5 separate regions of the Homo sapiens genome follow, and regions 1, 2, 3 and 4 are each reported to be linked to region 5. Evidence: microRNA targets listed by miRTarBase, many of them from high-throughput screens and not tested one by one. Region 5 holds a microRNA gene; each other region holds the end of a gene's coding sequence.

Region 1 (4,000 bases), not on the chromosome of region 5:
CACCCTCCACTGTCTGCTGGTGGAGGCAGCCATCAGCACAGTCATGCCAGCTAGCATGATCCTGAGATTCAGAAACAAACTTCAAAACCAGCATGCAGGCCGGGCGCGGTGGCTCATGGCTGTAATCCCAGCACTTTGGGAGGCCGAGGCGGGCGGATCCCCTGAGCTCAGGATTTTGAGGCCAGCCTGACCAATATGATGAAACCCCGTCTCTACTAAAAATACAAAAATTAGCCGGGCATGGTGGTGGGCACCTGTAATCCCAGCTACTTGGGAGGCTGAGATAGGAGGATCACTTGAACCTAGGAGGCAGAGGTTGCAGTGAGCCGAGATCACGCCATTGCACTCCAGCCTGGGCAACAAGAGCAAAACTCTGTCTCAGAAACAAACAAACAAACAAACAAAACTCCAAAACAAAAAACAGCATGCACGCAGGGTCCCTATCCAAACAAGACAGACAGGAGGGGCGGCCCTTCGTTCAAACTCTCACCTGTTTTAGGCACAACTGCACTGTGGGGCCGAAGCGTGTGCTGCTGAGGGGATTAACACAGCCCGCTCGCTGAGCGCTTCAGTTCGCAGGCGGCGGAAACCTTTGCCAAGAGCACTAGCTGGCTCCCTCAGCAAACAGGACGGGATAAGGTTAGCTCGTTTATCCAACAAATATTTGCAGAGCCCCTACTTTGTACCTGAAACTGTGGACACAGCAACAAGGATCAGAAGAAAGTTTATTCTTGGCCCCAAGAAGCCTGAGGTCTAAAATGGATATAAACTTCAAGCGAAAATAACACAATGACATGTACAATGTCACTGAGAGGAGCTGGCGTTGTTGATTCCGGAACGCTGGCAGGTGCACCGTGAATCGGCAGGTAGCACATGATCCTCAGACCCCCGTGCTTGGCCGTTTGCCTCCGATAAGGGACGGTTTCCAGCAGTTTGTGCTGGCACACATGACCTCCTGCCCCGACACACTCCCGTAAATCCTGCCTATTGTGAGATCTCTCATTCCTCACATGAGCCACCCCATCAGGTGCACGGTGCACCGCTGAGAGGCAACGCAATGACAGAAGGTACCTGAGGACCTGGTTACCTGGCCAGGGCTGGCGGGCCACACACGGGGGCAGGGGCTTGCCCGCTGGTTGCTAGCTGGGGGCTGTTCTCTCATCCTGGGACAATGACGTGGATGCTGACACCTATAGGCAGACATCCCTGCAGCTGAGGAGAATCGAAAGGAAACCACGCCCGAGAAAAACCAATTTAATGCTTCTGTTCTCAGCATTTCACAGCATGCAGGACTCAAATGGATACAACAGAAGAAAAAAACCCACAATTTTTGGAAAAGCCTTTGTCCAATGATTAATATTTTGATATCTATTGACAATCCCTTAGAACTTTAAATCTCAAAAACAAAAAAGTACTGTGGATCTCCATAGTTTATACAGAATTATGTGAATTCTATAAACTTTTCTGAACAAAACAATTACATGTCAAGAATCCATGAAGCCTGGAAGATACGCTCACGTTTTTGAGGTTTGTATTAATGCCAGTTTTTATTGTATTAGACAAATGCTCTCTGAGAATCGAAGACTTCTAAAGGTAGACAGGCCCAGTTTCCCATTAGAGTTCTGGAAGCAGAGCCTGGGGAAGGTCTGTCACTTGCCCATCACTGGACCAGCCAGAAGCCAGCGGGGGCCAGGCGGGGTCTGCAGGCTGCAGGTCCCTTCCAGTCCTGTCCCTGCTGCCCTCTGTGACCATCTCTGCTAAGAAACATCGACAGTTCGTCCTGCAGCCTCCAAGCACACTAACCTCAGCCATCAGATGTTCCTGAAGCCCAGGGTAAGTCCTGTTCTCAGAAGCCAACCCAGCTGCTTGTCTGGGCCATGCTCTCTCACACCGCAGCTAGGTCATCTGCGGCGACTCTCCTCTGTGCTGGGCAGCAGCTCCAGCTGGTCCACGTCCTGCACAGTGCTGCAGGGGGGCAGCAAGGCACGCCTGTGACATGAGAGTCTCGGCACGTGAGGTAGGGTCAACAGTGATGTCCACAACTCAATACCAGCCCTCCACACCTCGGCAGCACTCGTGGGTCCTCCTCAACCAGGCGGACACGAGAAACAGATGATAACATGGTGCAAGGACAGACTTCAGCTCACCAATCAGATGAAGGTTTTGGGGTTGGGTTTTTTCAGACAACGATGTACATTTTAGCTTCCAAATGTGCACAGGGGCACAAAGGTCTGGATGCTGGGCACTACGGGTACCACAAGAGGATGGAAAGAACCAGCTCATTCGGTTTTATTGTATGTATGTATGTATTTATTTTGAGACAGAATCTCACTCTGTCGTCCAGGCTGGAGTGCAGTGGCGCGATCTCGACTCACTGTAACCTCCGTCTCCTGAGTTCAAGCGAATCTCCTGCCTCAGCCTCCTGAGTAGCTGGGATTACAGGCATGTGCCACCATGCCCGGCTAATTTTTGTATTTTTAGTAGAGACAGGGTTTCACCATGTTGGCCAGGCTGGTCTCAAACTCCTGACCTCAGGTGATCCACCTGCCTCGGCCTCCCAAAATGCTGGGATTACAGGTGTGAGCCACCACGCCCGGCCTTGATTTTAAAATCTATAATTCATCACTCATAAAATAAATGTTTTTCATGGAAAAATGTCTTTTTAAATGTAATTAAAATATATTTTAAAAAAACATACTTTATGAAGCTTCTCAGGCAGGTCAAATAATATTTAAGTAAGAGAGGCCCAGTGATATATAAACGGTGTGAGATAAACTCTGCTGGAATCGTGCCACGTGTGCCGTTGCTATGCAAAGCTACATGGGGATTGAGAACCATAAAATGATTTTCAGATGAATGTCTAGAGAAAATGAAAACAAAAATAGAGCTGGTAAATCTAGATATTTGGTAATTCAAAAAATATAAATCGTGAATTGCTGGCACCAATTTTAAAAAACATTAGACTCTACGACAAGATCCTCTCCCTTAGGGCACATTCTTAACAGCTTTGACGTGTATAAAAACGCAGCGCCCTGCAGAGGACACATGCCGTGTTGCCAGTGCCACCGCAACGTCATTCGGCGGGACGCTGCCGGACGCTGGTTCGCCTGACGCGCGAGCTACGCAGCATGCTCTGCGGTCCCACAGGCGGCGCTATGGCTCTACCTTAGTATTTTGTAAATATTAAAAAATCATGCAGAAATTTCCTAACGCAAAAGCTATGATGACAAATCTCCAAACATCCCAAAGCAGCCGTGTCCCGAGGAACTTCCTGCGGTGTCCACAAAGCAGCCGCTGGCTGTCCTCCGGCAGAATGGGATGGCGCCTCTGGTTTCATGGCTGGTCAAGAATGACTTCTGGAATCAGCGACAATGCACCCAGGAACTGACTGCAATCTCCTTGCAGGATACAAATCATTTCATAATCTTACTCCTGCTTAACTTGCTGCCTAGAAAAGGCTGCGTTTTCCACCTGTGACTACTGGCCGTGCATATTCTACAAAATCATCTATAAGAACGGGCCAAGCTCCTAAAGGAAAGCAAGCAAACAGAAAACCCGTTAGAGCACCGTTTTTATCTCCAAAGCACTGAGTCACACATCAATCCAACATTTACACTTCAAGAACCCAAATGACTTGAGGTCCACACCATTTGTGTTTCACAGAATGAACCAGCCCAAGTTACCCAGTTCTTTCGCCCTAGCACGGCCAGGTCGGGAGCCCTGGTGTGTGTGTGCTGGCATGTCTAGGGGGCTGTGGGCTCACAGTGGCCCCGGATGCTCGGTGAGTGCCCCAGGCAGTCACACCAGCTGCTCAGGAAGGGAGCTAAATGGACCCCCGCGGAGCAGGAGGCATGTTCCTCAGGTCATTGGTATTCTTGCCAGCAGGGGGTGCTCCCTCCTGCGGCTCTTCCCAAGTGGGACCACCCCATTGCTCCCTTCCCCACCCCGGCAGCCCTGAGTGCCCTCTGAGCTCCTGCACTGCTGCCTCAATCCTGGAAGC
Region 2 (4,000 bases), not on the chromosome of region 5:
CTTTCTTCATCTGTAAGTGGGCACATTCCTGCCTCACGGGGTTTATCTGGTGAGGAAAGATTTGTATTATCTTTGGCATGAACTCAGTTGCTTGAAAAATGAAGCCCATAGAAGAAGCTAAGCCAGGGTGTCTGTCTTCAGAGCAGCACCTTGCCGCTTGCCAGTACAGCAGTGCCCTCACCTCTGGGGCTGAGCTGTTTGATTCATGCTGTGTGCCCTGGGAGGCAGCCTATCTCCATCTCTTGTAGCCTTGTCATGGCCACCCCTTTTTCCACGCTACAGCAGAAGGTTCAGGAAGCTTGAAATCAGCCCACACAAGCCCAGGCCCAACCTCTCTTCCATTGGCTGCTGCCCTTGCTGCCTCCTGGTACCCCCAGGCTCAGAGAAAGCAGAGCAGCCTGCCTGAGGAGGGCATGTGGTAGGGCTGGGGCCAGGCGCTGTTAGGTGCTGGGCAGTGGACACAGGGCTGACGCTCTGCATGTGACCAGGCGCTTTCCTAGGATGGGGGTGGGGGAAGGGGACAACCAAGGTTCTGCTCACCCTCTCCTCTAAATGAATTTTTATTGTTGTTTTTTTTTTTTTGGTCAGTTATGAGGAGTCAAATCCTAAGGATCCAGCGGCAGTGACAGAATCCAAAGAGGGAACAGAGGCATCAGCATCGAAGGGGCTGGAGAAGAAAGAGAAATGATGCAGCTGGTGCCCGAGCCTCTCAGGGCCAGACCAGACAGATGGGGGCTGGGCCCACACAGGCGTGCACCGGTAGAGGGCACAGGAGGCCAAGGGCAGCTCCAGGACAGGGCAGGGGGCAGCAGGATACCTCCAGCCAGGCCTCTGTGGCCTCTGTTTCCTTCTCCCTTTCTTGGCCCTCCTCTGCTCCTCCCCACACCCTGCAGGCAAAAGAAACCCCCAGCTTCCCCCCTCCCCGGGAGCCAGGTGGGAAAAGTGGGTGTGATTTTTAGATTTTGTATTGTGGACTGATTTTGCCTCACATTAAAAACTCATCCCATGGCCAGGGCGGGCCACTGTGCTCCTGGAAGATTCTCTGTTTAAGCACCCAGTGTCTTGCCCTGGGTTTTCTAGGTCTCACCTGCCCACCCAAAATCTTTTCTGCAAGCCCCTTAAGGGTGCCCACCCCAGTGCCTGGCCAGCCCTGCACCCGTAAAACACCTTTTAGCCAGTAGAGGGGGCCCACGAGCCCTCTCTCACCAGCTAGCACTTTTCTCACCACCTTCCTCGAAATACTTGGGGGCAGCAAGGGTGTTGGCAGATGAGAGTCTCCCACTCACCATGGTGAGAGTGGTGGGGAGTACCCAGGGCTGACCTGACTCACAAGGGAAGCAGTAACTGTAGAACCTGCCAGCCTCCCTGGTCCCTGTGCCCATATGGCTTCGGCTGATGAGGGCTCAGACTCTAGGTTGCCCTGAAGATCAAGGCTTTGTCTCCCATTCTGCCCATTCCTGGGTTTCTTCCCAAAATGACTACTGTGGGGCCAGTCATGGCACAAGGGCCAGGACCTCTAGAGGCTGGGGTGGGGAAGGACTGAGCTAGTGATTCTTAGAGGCCTTCTGGGGCCTAAGAGCTGAAATCTCAGCGCCCGGGTTTCCCTAAAGTTTGCTGAAGACAGCAGCCCCGGCCAGCAGGAGACCGACCGGGCACCACCCCAAACCAGGCAAACGGTGGCCACAACCCTCATCCACCCACCTGGTATGAGGTCACTGAGTGGGGAAACAGACAGGAGCGGGTGGCCACCATACTGACAGACCCGGGGCTCTCCCTTGCCCAAGCTTCAGGTTCAAAGGCTGAAAATAACAGTGGCTTCCAGTTTGGAAGTGGCCAAAGGACAATCATGACCAGAGACTCAGGAGTATGACTGTAATACCCTCACTAGGTATTGACATGCACTAAGCACCTTGATATAGGATTTCACTTCCTTCTGAGTCTTGGGCTGTATGTGCTATTATTCGCTCCGCTGTGCAGATGAGGGAATTGAGGCAGCTTGCCCATGGACATCGATTTGACCTTAGCCAAGCCAAACAATTCCAGGTTCCTAAGGACCGCAGCTCCTCCCCAGACCCCTGGGACCAAGTCACTGGCTGGTGTGCTGGGCATCCCTGAGCCCCAGCCACCCAATTTTACTGGCTCCAGGGTTCTATAGGAAGGAAAAGGGGTAGAAAATTTCAAAAGGCTTCTTCCTTTCAGGGAGGGGGGTTCCCTTTCAGGGGCTTCTGGAATCTCTACCCACTCCAGCCAACTCTGAGGCCATGTGGTCCTGGAACAAGGCCCCTCTGAGGCAGATGGGGCAGGCGGCCCAGGCACATAGCATGGTTGGCTCTGCGGCCCAGGGCGCACAAAGGCCTTATTGAGTCACCACCAGCCCCCGGCAGAGGCTGAGGTGGCAGTGGCGCCGAGCGCCTGCCACCTAATGACTGTCCTGGTCCAGCCAGATGTTCCACAGACCTCCGGAGCAGCGGACTAGGGCCCGCCCGGCCAGCCGGCACCGCAGAGGCCACTGTAATTCCAATTAACCAGCTTCAGCTGAGCAAACAGCGGGCAGTGGTGGCCCAGCCCAGGCGGTAGGCCTGGCCCGCAGAGCCTGCGAGTCTAGACTCCAGATGTGAACCGCCACCATCAGAGTCCCATGGAAAAATGGCACCAGGCCGGGCAAGGATTGGGCCTGCATGCTGGGGAGGGGGTGTGGGTGGTTGGGCAGGGCCCCGAGTGGGCTAGATGCCAGCCTCACCTGGTTTGGGGTGGATTATTAGGAAACTGCTCTAGAACCCAAGTTCTACCCTGCTTTATTAGATTCTGTTTCTGTGCCTCAGTCTCCCATGACTGCGACAAGAGAGAGGGTTCCAAGGGGAAAACCAGCCCTGCTGAGACCCCAGTGTGCACTGACTGTATTTCACGTGACTAGCATTATGCTAGTGCAACTGACCCTTGAACAACACAGGGATTAGGGGCACCAACCCATCATGGTCGAAAATCTGTATAACTTTTCAGTCCCGCAAAACAACTAATAGTCTGCTGTTGACCAGAAGCCTTACCTGATAACATAAACAGTCAAAACATCTTGTATGTTATACGTACTACACTGTCTACCATAGAGTAAGCTAGAGAAAATGTAATTAAGAAAATCCTAAGAGCCAGGCATGGTGGCTCATGCCTGTAATCCCAGCATTTTGGGAGGCCAAGATGGGCAGATCAGGAGGTCAGGAGATCGAGACCATCCTGGCTAACATGGTGAAACCCCCGTTTCTACTAAAAATACAAAAAATTAGCCGGGCATGATGGCAGGCGCCTGTAGTCTCAGCTACTCGGGAGGCTGAGGCAGGAGAATGGCCTGAACCCGGGAGGCAGAGCTTGCAGTAAGCCGAGAGAGGCAGGCGGATCACAAAGTCAGGAGTTCGAGACCAGCCTGGCCAATATGGTGAAACCCCGACTCTACTAAAAATACAAAAATTAGCCTGGCATGGTGGCAGGCGACTGTAGTCCCAGCTACTCAGGAGGCTGAGGTGGGAGAATCACTTGAACCCAAGAGGCGGAGGTTGCAGTGAGCCAAGATTGCACCACCGCACTCCAGCCTGGGGGACAGAGTGAGACTCCGTCTCAAAAAAAAAAAAATTATTCAGTGAAAGTGGATCATCATAAATAAAGATCTTCATCCTGGTCTCTGTGTTGAGGAAGAGGAGGGGGTTGGTCTTGGTGTCTCAGGGGTGGCAGAGGTAGAAAAAAAGTCCACGTTTAAGTGCACCTGCACAATTGAAACCCGTGTTCAAGTTTCAAATGTATCTTAAGATTTACTTAATCGTTGTAACAACACTTTGAGGTACCTACATCATTCTTACGATGGGGAAACTGAGGCAGAGACCGTAAGGGCGGGCCCAGGGGGCATGTGAACCCAGAGTGTCTGGCTTCCAAGACTCGTATTCACCGTGGTGCCGTTTGACATGATCAGGATAATGGATCCCTGGTTCCTTTTGGGGGCAGCATTGGAGAAGGG
Region 3 (4,000 bases), not on the chromosome of region 5:
GATACTGCTGATGACTCACCAAGCTTGCTGTGTCAGTCTTCCTAGATGTTGTTGTCATCCTTTTGATTTCCTTAATTTTGTGCATGGGCTTTGTTTTCAGGTGGATCTATCTTAACGACCAGAATTTATGCATCCCCGCCAGTTCCTCTTTTGTTTATGGAGCTGTACCTATAGGAGCCAGTATTTATGTTATTGGAGATCTTGATACAGGTAAGAGTGTTACAGTGATTTTCTTGGAACTGTTTCCTGGTGATTCTGGGTACATTTTCTCACCCTTGCTTATTTCTGTGGCTTAGGTACCAATTACGACTACGTGCGTGAGTTTAAAAGAAGCACAGGAACCTGGCACCACACTAAACCACTCCTTCCATCCGACCTTCGCCGTACAGGATGTGCAGCCTTACGCATTGCGAATTGCAAGCTTTTCCGCCTGCAGCTTCAGCAAGGCTTATTCCGTATTCGTGTTCATTCCCCTTGAGGAGGAAGCAGAGCAGAGTGCGAGATCCTGACCCAAGAGCACCATAACATAGCTCCGAAAGGGAGAGCAGAGATGGCAGCTGAAACTCACTCTGTGCTGGGCTTTGGTATGGTAACTCTTTGGTGGTTTTATGATGCTTACAAACTTGAGCTTTAGCTCTTGTTTGGGAGAACACGTAACTGTTGAAAAACTACCTGGGAGGAGTGAGTTCCTCCAGTTAAATGTGGCTGTAGATGTTGGAGGCTAGGGAGGCTAGTAAATATCAAAAGGAAAAGGGAGTGGGAATTGCTATCATGTAAAATATCAAAGTTAAAATACTAAGGTGCATTTTCCCTGAAGGGAACTCATGTCTGACTGCTGTATTCAAATACGTAGCTTTGGTAACAAACAAAATCCGTATATGCAAATCAACATATCCAAACATGCCAAGACTGCTTTTCCACTGCACTTGGAAGGATATATTATGCCTAACCCTGCCCAACAAATTAAGGTTTGTGCCTAAAATGTTAGATTGGACTGTATGCCAGTTAGTCTCCATTTATTCCTAGTACTCTGTCCTAAGAATCTTTTTAAAACTATATCATGATGAATTGAAATGAAGATAAAATTGCTCTTTTGTAACTTTATCTTAGTAATGTAAAGATTCAGTAAATTGATGAGTCAGGTTGCAGCCCTCATGTGAACTGAAAGAAGTTGCTCGCTTCTGTGTTGACTTAGATCAAGACACGTCACGCATCCTTTCTGGGGTAGTACCTGTGGAGCCGGGAAGGGTCTCCTGCAGTGCCATTCTGCCTTCTCAATGAGCAAAACCATTTTCTAAGTATGAGGATATTAGTGAGTAGGAGATTTTATAAAAGAAAGACCTGAGTCAGACAAATAATAAAGGTCTGCTGTGGCTAAAAAAGCAAAAACAAAAAAGCTATCCAGACAAAATACATAGGGATCAGAAACTTTTTCATATAACCTGTCTGAAAGCACACAAAGTCTTGTTTACTACTGTTTAGGGTTTGAAAACTTGTCTTAGAATGCGAATCTGTGTTAAGAATCTAGTCTTTGTAATAGAAGTTTCCCAGTGGCATTCACTAGTGAGAGTTTTAGACAAATTATGTTACGAGTAAAGTTTGGCTGGTAGAATAAACTACCTCAACTTAATTTCATTCTGTTCATAGTAGAGCAAATTAATCTTTTCCTCCTTCCCTCCTTTCCTATCTCTCATTCTCACCTCAACCCACTTTACCCCACTTCTCATTGGGGGAAAAATGTCTTTCGTTCGTGGAACGTATCTTGTAAGATATTTTGTTTTCCACTTGAATTACACCACCCTAGTGTGAAATCGGGGACTTCAAAGTGCTTGATTCCTTCCTAAATTGAATTTTATGCAATGTCAAATTTCTAATCAATTTAATATACAGTACTTCATTTTTAATTGTTTTCTAAAAAAAAGGTTTTTTTTTTCCTTTTGGAATATGGCTGTAAGAAGCAGCATTTTGTCTTATTAACACATGTATAAAGGTATCCTTTGGTTTTAAGTCGAGAACAGGAATTTCTTCTAGAAACTTCCTGTATGGAACGTTTATATGCAATTAACATGCATATGAAAAACATCACTTACGTTCTCCCACCCATAGACATAAAAAAGGGTGACCTGTGATTTTTTTTCTTATACCTGCTGGAAGTCAGTACAATGCGTCAAAAGTTGCTGAAAGATGCTGTGCCTATGGGGTTCTAGAGAGTGTTGAGTGTGGTACATTAACTCTCCATTTTAGCCAGAAGATACCTGATAAGAGAAGGTGTAAGGTTTTTATCTTATATGCCAGAGGCACCAGGCCAGATGTGCCGCACAGTCATGTAATTCAATCATGTTTAATATGTCAGTCAAAACCAAATTCAGAATTGTTTTGTGTACCAGTCAGCTGTTGTCTGCACATTTTCGTAGTGACAGTGTGGAGATCTTTTTAATGAAAGCAAACTATGTGGCCTCTGCAAAGAAAGGAAGATTTTTCTTTTTACAACTAGATATTAGTTTTAGAGGAAGGAAATAGCTGAAAAACTAAATTTGCTTTGGTGAAATGTCCTGTACAGAACAGTACCTTGGCATTCAGCAGCTGTAATTGGGGAACATTAAAACAGTAACTGACATCCAGTTAAAGCCACGATCGTCAGCAATTCTCCTTTTTTAATTTCTGATATTTAAAGTTTTTTTTCCAGTCTACACCAGGCCTCTCCAAGGAGACAGTTCATTATTTAGGAGTGAATGTGTTCCTCTTGCAATATTATCAGTACCTGCATGACTTGGTAAATTCATTTTATAAAAATAGTGTTTTTTTTTTTTAATTTCAGTTCATTGACTCTATAACTGCAGAAATTAGATAATGTTTTATAAAATAAATTTGCCACATAATATGGGATGCAATAACCAACAAAGCTGCTAAGTGCCAAACTGTTATTTTACTATATATAAATATTAAAATATTGTGTTGAAGTATAGGGATGTATTTAATTTTACTATGCTCCAACATTAATCATGACTCTTTTGTAAATTACAGTTATTTCAGTATTGTAAAATAAATGTTGACTCATTTCATGCAGGTTTGTGTTTTAACATTCCACTTATGCCTTGAAACATCATTTCTTGATAACTTTTTGATACTTCTTTCTTGATAAGGCACTTTTACCAGGTGTGTGTTGGAATTGGTGGCTCAGGATAGGTCTTAAATTTTAAATACAAATATCTTTGGGGGAAGTGCAATTTATTTTCAGAAGGAAAGTTGTCTCAGGTTAGAATAAGTAAATATTTAAAGAACCTCTCCTAGGCTGCAGTCTAAAATAGGTAGTTTGTTTCTTTGTTTAGCATATCCAAATTTAGATTTTTCAAAGATTTAAGTGTTTATTGAAAGTGTTTTTTGTTTTGTTTTTGATAGTGCTTATATCCTGTGAATAGAAAAAGTGTGAGAGATGAATGAGTGAGTTGTACGTGTGTGTGTGATGCTATTTGACCTGATAAATGTATTTGTGTTTACTTTTTGAATTGTAGTTCTAAACTACATATATTACTGTCTCCTGGTGCTTCAGATAAATTCTTGAGCCTGTTGACCTTCAGTTTATACTACTGTGTCGAACTCATATTGAGTGTAAATATTGAAATATTTGTAGTTTATAGTAAGTTTTACTTGGTGTTCGCGTTTCTCTTCTTCAGCAGGATTAAAAACAGTGTTTACCAACTCGTAGTTGGTATACTGTCAGGATTTGGCCTAAGAAATTTCTGAATGCATTGTTTAGCTTAGTACTTCATTGCTGTAAGGAATTGATAGCTAACTGTAGGCTTTTTTCAAACTGTATAACAACCAAAAAGGAGCATTTGGGGGTATGTTGGATGGTGTTTTGTTTGTAAACACTTTGTTATATTGCACTACCACTTTAATGATGACACTTCCTTCATTGATGGCTTGGAAGTGTCATTTTTATAATTTATGAGTTGGGGGGATTCCCTAGTCAATGCATAGGAAATACATTCTTTGTACA
Region 4 (4,000 bases), not on the chromosome of region 5:
CAGACAAGGAAGTTGAGCTCAGAGGCTGATTTGCCAAACAAACAAAATTGTGAGTCTGCTTCTAGATCAAAAGGGTGGACATTCACCTGAAGGAATTCCCTGGGAAAGTAGTGAAGTACCAATTATTTTCTTTCTAGAAAGTACATTTTCTGCTGGACACAGTGGCTCACACCTGTATTCCCACTTGGGAAGCTAAAGAGGGAGGATCACTTGAGCCCAGGATTTCGAGACCAGCCTGAGCAACATAGTGCGACCCTATCTCTAAAATATTTTTTTAAAATTAGCCAGGCATGGTCCTAGCTACTCGGGAGGCTGAGGCAAGAGGACTGTTGAGCCTAGGAGTTCAAAGCTGCAGAGAGCTATGATCATGCCACTGTACTCCAGCCTGGGCGACAGACCTTGCCTTTTCAAAAAAAAAAAGAAAGAAAGAAAGAAAAGAAAAGTATTTGGACACATTTCTCCCAATATGTCCAAATATCCAAAGCAATTATATCAAGGGTATTGGCTCCTTGGTTAAGAACTGGGCTTTATTTTCACACACTCCCTGAAATGACACAGCCAGAGATCAGGTAGGACCCAGAGAGAACAAAGTTACAAACCCTGTGTCCAAACAGCATCCTAAAATGAAATACTCCTGGATGGAACCCTTGGAAAACTCAGTGTTGACCATATTCCCAGTTACCCATAAAAACTTATCAAGTTGTGGTTTAGAAACAGATTCAAAGAAAGCAGTCTGCAGAAAATACGCAGATTTACTCTTTTAATTAGCAAAACACAGACTTTACAGATCTCATTACTATATTTAGAGAATAAATCTTAGAGTAAAATGACTTTGTTTCTTGGCTTGAACCAAATTATGTGGAGTTTTTATAATTAGAAAACTTTATTGAAGAGCTTCAGAAATAATTTAAGTATCAATATTCAATCTTCAAAAACTCTTCCAGTACAGTCTATGACAGCTGCACAGTAATACATATTGTCTTAGATTTTCTTAATATTCACATCTGCCTTCTGTTCTTTGAAATTCTTTTTGTGTTTATGTTTAAAAATAGATATACAATTCAAATATGTTCTAGGTGAGGACTGGTTATTTAAATAACATATATATGCTTTACTTACACCTCTCTCGGGGTTCCACTGAAGTATATATTCTTCTAGGTATTTGGGGGACTGTGTCATTAAGGCTAATGGTGGTTTAATCTAAGAGGAAAAAAATACATGCATACCAAGGAATATTTTTCAGTTTCTTGGCAGAACACAATAGAGAGGAAAAGTGATTTGACTTTTTAGCTCCAATTGCTTTCAATTTCTTAGGTAAGGTCAATGTTGTAAAATCTGCTGAGACTTTTTTTATAGAACCTGAGTGAATAAAATGCAGAGGTAAATCACTACTTTCTATTTAAAGCAAACTAGCTTTTTACAAAGCTTATGACCATTTTTAAAGAAAAAGAAAGGAGGCCAGGTGCAGTGGCACATGCTTATAAACCCAGTGCTTTGGGAGGCCGAGGCGGGAGGCTCATGTGAGTCCAGGAGTTTGAGTCCAGCCCGAGCAACATAGTGAGACCCAGGTGTGATGGCTCATGCCTGTAATCCCACCTACTCGGGATGCTGATGTGGGAGGATCACTTGAGCCCAGGAGGTTGAGGCTGCAGTGAGTTGTGATTGTGCCACTGTACTCCAGCCTGGAAAACAGACAAGACCCTGTCTCAAAAAAAAAAAAAAAAAAAAAGGAAAAACACATGTTCTTCCCAGAAAATAAAAAATAGGCCAGTAGATTCTTGGTTCTTCTTCTTCTTTTTTTTTTTTTGAGACAGGTCTCGCTCTTTCACCCAGGCTGGAGTGCAGCTGCACAGTCTCAGCTCACTGCATCCTCCACCTCCCAGGTTCAAGCAATTCTCCTGCCTCAGCCTCCAGAGTAACTGGGATTACAGTCACCCGTCACTACAACCGGCCAACTTTTGTATTTTTAGTAGAGATGGGGTTTCACCATGTTGGCCACGCTGATCTCGAACTCCTGACCTCAAGTGATCCACGCGTCTCAGCCTCCCAAAGTACTGGGATTACAGGCGTGTGCCACCGTGCCTGGCCGGTTCTTCTTTCTTCTGCCAGGCAGTCCACCCTAGGTGGGCAGGCTTCCTACATGGACTCTGAGGGGCTCTCTGGTCTCTGCTGATGTTGCTGGCATACCTGCTGTGGACACCCAGTAAAACAGTGGCTCCACACAATCATGGGAAAAAAGACGAATATGACCATTACATTTCACACAAGCTTCAAAGGAACCATCAAACCAGTAACAACTCAATTACTCTTTGTGGCTTCTTTTTATTTTGAATCAATAATCTAGAAGTGAAGGTCTCCACAGCCCATTATGCCTTCACTGATCCACCTACTTCCCATGAACACCTGCCGAAGGAAAGAAATAAGGCAGCATGTGCTAAGATGCAGTGCTGCTTCTAAACATAATTTGTGGGGGGCAGGCATGAAACCCAAGTTCAGAAGTGCTTAAGTACTGAGGTGATTACTCAACTATGAAGAGGTCTTTCAAGCGCACAGTTGATTTTTAGCAAGTACAGCGTATGAAGACCTTCATTTTGATTTTATAAAAGTAGGCTATGTTGCATGAGTATCTAAAAGTGGCTGAAAAACCGACTGCATGCTTTTAAGCCTAAAAATAACCAAGGAGTAGAGCCAAACATGTACATTTCAGCAGAAAAGTGATAAACAGAAAGCGAAGCGGATAATATGCTGAAGAATGAAGAAAGCCCACATGATGGCTTATGCTGACTTTACAACAGAGTGAAACATTCAAACATTAAAGAAGTCAAAACAAATGCAGTTAGGTGTGTACATTACCCCAAAAGAACCCATGGCTATTAAAGCTGCCATGAGGATCTTCTGAACTGTTAAAACCTTACGTCATGCTACCAATCTGACTCACTTTCAGTTTCAATAACTGATAGAAATTTCTTACCAAGACCCTAATTTTGGCATCAAAAATGTTAATTTGTAGATCAGAATCATAAATCTACTAACTCCATATTCATTTGCTAATTTATGAGACAGAAAACATATAGTTCTTAATTCTAAAAAGGCCATTTAATATCTCATCCCTATTACTCTTCCAAGAAGGAGGGAAACAGAGAGGCTGTTTGGAATTGCAGTAGAACACAATGTTTAGAACAACAGAAAAACATATGGGAAAAAAAAAAGCCCAATAAATATTCAATCTACAAGAAATATAGCAAAATAGGGGAAAATACTGAAACTACTTTGCTGTACCATGGAGACACATGGTAGCCCATGACCACTTCCTAGATTACTCTTTGGAAACTTAATTCAATTGGCCTTAATTGCTTATAAAGTGTGCAACACAGGGAGGATTTGTCTTTAATTTAGTTCTGAAAGAGGCATGAATGGATGTAAACTCTATTCACAGACCACCGTAGATCATTAGGGCAATTAAGAACAGTTTCTAGTCTTGAAACCCCTCCACGCAAATCACCTGCTAACCTTTGGCTCCAGGTTTCAGACTTGCAAACACTTTGGGGTTCTTAAGGGCAAGTGAGACCTCATTGAGGAAGGAAATAAAGTGGGAGTCTCTCTCAGATTTCTTTGACTCAAAAATGATGACAATGGTAAAGTGAGGTTCCGGGCGGGTTAGGAAGTAGGTACTCTGAACTTTGTCATCATAGAAGTGGACCACTTTCTCCAAGCTGTTCAGATCAGATGTGCGGTCCGTCATGATCATGATGACATTGGGCCAGTGCATGACTGGCCTGTCGCTGGGCAGAGACACTACAGCTGGATACTGGTCCACACCCTTGGGGGCCTCTCTGTAGGAATGGGGGTGGTGATAACCATGACCCTGAAAACTCTCAGAACCTCTGTTGTCAAAAATTAAGGACACATTGGCAGCATCATATTTTCTGATGAAGCTGGAAATCTTTCCAAAAAAGTCTGGGTTAGCTTTTGCTGTCAACGTTTTCATTTCTGAAGCAGT
Region 5 (4,421 bases):
GCCTCAGCCTCCCAAAGTGCTGGGATTACAGGTGTGAACTACTGCACCCAACCCTTTGTCATCTATCTTTTCTTCACTTGGAGAAAAGTGAGAAAATTAAGACTTAGTGACTATGACAGTTAAGCAACTATCACAACCACCAAGGTCAGGGTCAAGTTCTCTCACCACCCCAGCCCCTGACCCCCAGGACTCAGAGACTTACCTGATTCCACGTAGCAAAGTTGACTTTGTCGGCTGCATTAAAAGCCATGATGTTATATTTTTTGGTTGTATTCCTGGAGTGGATGAGAAGAGGTAGTGTCAATCCAATACAGCAATTCAATCATTAATTTAATCAGTCAATGCTATTGAACCATTAATTCAATCAACCACCCAACTGGATCGTTAATTCAATCAAATCATTACTTTAATTCAATCACTCAATTCAATTGAACCATTAATTCAATTCAATCATTCCATTCAATTGAATCATTAATTCAATTCAATTCACTCAACAAACCCACCCAGCTTCATTCAGCCTGTTTTGCCTGGCAACACTGGATACGGAAGACTCCAAGGATTCCCAGTCTGCCAGAGAAGCTAGACCCATCCTCTCCTGACCCCAGGCAGAAGAAGAGCAGATGGAGGGACGAAGATTTGGGGGAACCCAAGATGTGGAGATTATTGTGAACTCAGCCTTGGGGAGGAGGGAGGACAGGCAGGGAGTATTTCCTGGAGGAGGAAGATACTGGAGTTGAGTTTTGCAGAATCATCAAGAATTCACCCAGCAGAGTCACAGTTTAGGGGTTGAGGGGAGGCACTCATGGCAGAGGAACAGGATGTACAAAGGCCTGGAAAGGAAAGACAGCCTGACCACTTTGAAACAGGACGAGGAATATGTCCTTACAGCTGGCCTGGGCATCATGGGACCATATACTCCTCGAAGGTTAGGCCAGGGGGCTGGATCACCGTGTATTAATGCACTCATTCATTCATTCGTTCAAAAAAGCAGTGTTGTCCCCAGAGAAGCCTCAGCTTAATCCCAGCCCTGCCCTCCAAGTCTCTCCCGGTCTGGAGGGAGAACCACAGACAGGGCCAGAAATGGCTGGCTAAGAAGATCGTGAAGGTTTTCATTTTTGGGGGGTGGAGAGGAGTGGGAGATGGGGCTGGGGACTTACTTAGGAACTCGAACGACGTATTCAGTGACATTCTGGCTGCTAGGGCCCTGCGGAAAGAGGAAGCGGTGAGTGAGGGGTCGCCGAGGTCGCCGTCGGAACCCCCGAACCCCGCCAAATCCACACTCACTAGGGCCGCCATGGGCAATGGTCAGTGGTTCCGATCTGGTCCGACCCGGGTTCCTTTCGTCTCCTCTGGCGTGCGCGTCCCTCGATCCCGGGGAAGCCGCCGCTCGGTGTCGGGTCTCTGTGCCTGAGCGAGGACCCCAACCCTAGGCGCCTCTGGCGCTGGGAAAAGGTAACCGGAAGAGGCGCTCAAGCTACTCGGTCTACGCTTCTGCGGCCGCCTAACCCGGAAGCGAAACCCTCGAGCAGCCGCGTCGCGATGGCAACCTTCTTAGCGACTGTGGCCACCTCAGTGCGCAGTCACTTATGCTCCTCGGCGGCTATGGTCACCTCAAAAGGTCCACCGCGGTCCCTTTTTAGACTCAGCAAACCTAGGCCGAGTCTGAGATAAACTAACGGGCCTCTGTCGCTGGCGCTCTTGTATATAACGCGGTTAACTTCATCAAATGGGGGACCGCCCTCTCTCGTGACGTCAGCACCCAAGGACCGTGGGGCATCCTGGGTGGGAAGAGGGAGACGAATCCCCCTTGCGGGCTCCCAGGCACTTTGCGCATGCGCCTTGCCGCTCTGGACCTGGGGGGCCCAGAAGGCCGCGTCACCATAGCAACCGAGGCCTACTCGGGTCGGGTCGAACCGCCGCTTGGCTCCCCATGGGTCTGTTTGGGGTTCATTTCCTCCCCCTACCCCGAAGGGGTGGACCCCGTCATTCCCGCAAAATGACCGGGGCGGGGACCCTTGTGACGTTGAGCCGAGCCAGGAGGGGTCAGAGCCTGGGCGGGGTCGGGGCGCGACCACCCCAAGAGCTGCTGGCCGGATGGGTCTTTGCAAGTCCAAGCTGCCCGAGATGGGCAGGGCTCTGAGGCCCCAGGAGAAGGGTAACGTCGCGGGGGCGGCTGGCTGGCTTCCTGGGGGGAAGGGAAGGAAGCTGCCGAGAACAGGAGGGAGATGCAGGATCCCCTACCCCGTTCCAGGCATGCACACATCCCCCGAATCATGGCAGTAACACAACTGCGCATGCTCACGGCGCAACCATTCATTGCTCCACTTCGCAAATACTCCAGCACCTCCTGGGTTCGGGGCCCCGCAAGGTGAATCTGTCAAACCAGCTCCCCACGGAGGATTACAGTGTCCTCTCGAGGGTTACAGTGTCGTGGAAGAGACAGAGTCACAGCATGGGAATCTACAACCCAGGAAGGAGCAGGAGAAGCACAGCGGGGCTCTGAGGGCTCAGAGAAGAGGGGAGGTTTCAGTTGGGCACTGAGGGATGCATAGGAGTTGGCTAAGCAAAGGGAAGGCGGGCAAGACACAAAAGTTGGGCCATGAACTACAGACACCGTCGATGTGTCTGTTTTCATTTATTTCTCATCCACCACTAAATGTCAGGAACCGCCAACCCCTAGGAATATAGGAATGAGGGAGGCAGAAATAGTCCTTGCCCTCATGGAGTGTCTGGCTTGGGGGAGACAAGAACGAGTAAACGGCTGGGCACGGTGGCTCATGCCTGTAATCCCAGCACTTTGGGAGGCCGAGGCGGGCGGATCACCTGAGGTTGAGAGTTCGAGACCAGCCTGACCAACGTGGAGAAACCCCGTCTCTACTAAAAATACAAGATTAGCCGGGCGTGGTAGCACATGCCTGTAATCCCAGCTACTCGGGAGGCTGAGACAGGAGAATCGCTTGAACCTGGGAGGCAGAGGTTGTGGTGAGCCGAGATCGCGCCATTGCCCTCCAGTCTGGGCAACAAGAGCGAAACTCCGTCTCAAAAAAAAAAAAAAAAAAAAAAGAAGGAAAAGAAGGAAAAAAAAAGAACGAGTAAACAGAGAAGATCATGACAGACTGTGGCCATTGCTGTGGAGGAAATAGGTGTCTCAGACAAGGAGTGATGGGGGGAAGCTCTAGATGGAGGCTAGAGAAGGCCAGATGGAAGTTGTGGCCAGAAGGAACTGGGGCAGGCAGGGATTTTCCAAGCAGAGGAAACAGCAAGGGAGAAGTGAGTTTCAAATTCAAAGAACTGAAGCCCCCTGGGGCTGGGACAAAGAGAAGGGGAGTATGGGTTGGGGCTGGGACAGAGGGAAGGGGAGTAGGATATGGGGCTGGAACAGAGAGAAGGGGAGTATGGGATGAGACTGGGAGCGTGGGCAAGTCCCTGCCTCTCACTGAACCTCGGTTCCCTCCACTGTAAAATGGGATGATAGAGTCCTCAGGATGCTTTAAGGAGATGCCGTGTGTGAAGGGCCTGGCCTGCTCAAGTTCACGTCTTTGTTTTTTTTTATTTTATTTTTTTGAGACGGAGTCTCGCTCTGTCGCCCAGGCTAGAGTGCAGTGGCACGATCTCGGCTCACTGCAAGCTCTGCCTCCCGGGTTCACGCCATTCTCCTTCCTCAGCCTCCCAAGTAGCTAGGCCTACAGGTGCCCATCACCACGCCCAGCTAATTTTTTGTATTTTTAATAGAGACAGGTTTTCACCGTGTTACCCAAGATGGTCTCGATCTCCTGACCTGAAGTGATCTGCCCACCTCGGCCTCCCAAAGTGCTAGGATTACAGTGCTAGGCATGAGCCCACCGCACCTGGCCACATCATTTTTTTTTTTAAATGGAGTCTTGCTTTGTTGCCCAGTCTGGAGTGCAGTGGCACAATCTCGGCTCACTGCAACCTTTGGCTCCTGGGTTCAAGCGATTCTCCTGCTTCAGCCTCACGAATAGGTGTGCACCACCACACCCAGCTAATTTTTTTTGTATTTTTAGTAGTGATGGGGTTTCACCCTGTTGGCCAGGCTGGTCTCAAACTCCTGACATCAAGGGATCCACCCGCCTCGGCCTCCCAAAGTGCAGGGATTATAGGCGTGAGCCACCACACCTGGCCTCAAGTTCACATCTTCATCCAAAGCGGCACAAACACACAACGTGCCTGGCTATGCCCTTGAGAACAGAACCATACCCCTAAGAGGCCGGGCGCGGTGGCTCACGCCTGTAATCCCAGCACTTTGGGAGGCCGAGGCGGGCAGATCATGAGGTCAGGAGATCGAGACCATCCTGGCTAACATGGTGAAACCCCGTCTCTGCTAAAAACACAAAGAAAATTAGCCGGGCGCGGTGGCGGGTGCCTGTAGTCCCAGCTACTCAGGAGGCTGAGGCAGGAGA

Evidence for each region. Region 5 holds the annotated microRNA hsa-miR-6790-3p (CGACCUCGGCGACCCCUCACU, at 1,226-1,246, opposite strand). A microRNA usually pairs through its seed, bases 2 to 8, with sites in the 3' UTR of a target mRNA and lowers its output. Matches are read on the target gene's strand: a 7mer-m8 pairs with bases 2 to 8, a 7mer-A1 pairs with bases 2 to 7 and ends in A, and an 8mer does both.
Region 1: the mRNA of DCUN1D2 is a reported target of hsa-miR-6790-3p. Seed matches in the 3' UTR shown: 7mer-A1 at 2,527-2,533.
Region 2: the mRNA of HM13 is a reported target of hsa-miR-6790-3p. The part of its 3' UTR that is shown has no 7-base or 8-base seed match.
Region 3: miRTarBase lists GAN as a target of hsa-miR-6790-3p. The part of its 3' UTR that is shown has no 7-base or 8-base seed match.
Region 4: miRTarBase lists KICS2 as a target of hsa-miR-6790-3p. Seed matches in the 3' UTR shown: 7mer-A1 at 2,016-2,022.

What each region holds. Positions count from the first base shown.
Region 1 is chr13:113,454,581-113,458,580 of GRCh38, forward strand. It overlaps DCUN1D2 (defective in cullin neddylation 1 domain containing 2), which reads right to left. Exons shown (of 7, transcript NM_001014283.2): 7 at 1,239-3,528. The coding sequence ends at 3,449. Among named protein-coding and RNA genes, the nearest start is that of ADPRHL1, 3.1 kb to the left of the region's middle. RefSeq lists an enhancer at 1,438-2,368.
Region 2 is chr20:31,568,532-31,572,531 of GRCh38, forward strand. HM13 (histocompatibility minor 13) reads left to right here. Exons shown (of 13, transcript NM_178581.3): 13 at 589-1,012. The coding sequence ends at 688. All of the region lies in intron 2 of HM13-AS1 (HM13 antisense RNA 1), which reads right to left. Among named protein-coding and RNA genes, the nearest start is that of HM13-AS1, 2.7 kb to the right of the region's middle. RefSeq lists a silencer at 1,075-1,369.
Region 3 is chr16:81,377,119-81,381,118 of GRCh38, forward strand. It overlaps GAN (gigaxonin), which reads left to right. Exons shown (of 11, transcript NM_022041.4): 10 at 101-210; 11 at 297-4,000. The coding sequence ends at 478. Among named protein-coding and RNA genes, the nearest start is that of MIR4720, 5.9 kb to the right of the region's middle.
Region 4 is chr12:64,190,337-64,194,336 of GRCh38, forward strand. KICS2 (KICSTOR subunit 2) reads right to left here. Exons shown (of 3, transcript NM_152440.5): 3 at 744-4,000. The coding sequence ends at 3,506. Among named protein-coding and RNA genes, the nearest start is that of KICS2, 30 kb to the right of the region's middle. RefSeq lists an enhancer at 3,794-4,000.
Region 5 is chr19:6,391,700-6,396,120 of GRCh38, forward strand. MIR6790 (microRNA 6790) reads right to left here and starts at 1,284; the gene lies at 1,222-1,284. GTF2F1 (general transcription factor IIF subunit 1) reads right to left here and starts at 1,465. Exons shown (of 13, transcript NM_002096.3): 1 at 1,285-1,465; 2 at 1,158-1,204; 3 at 203-275. The coding sequence starts at 1,296. It also overlaps the pseudogene LOC390877.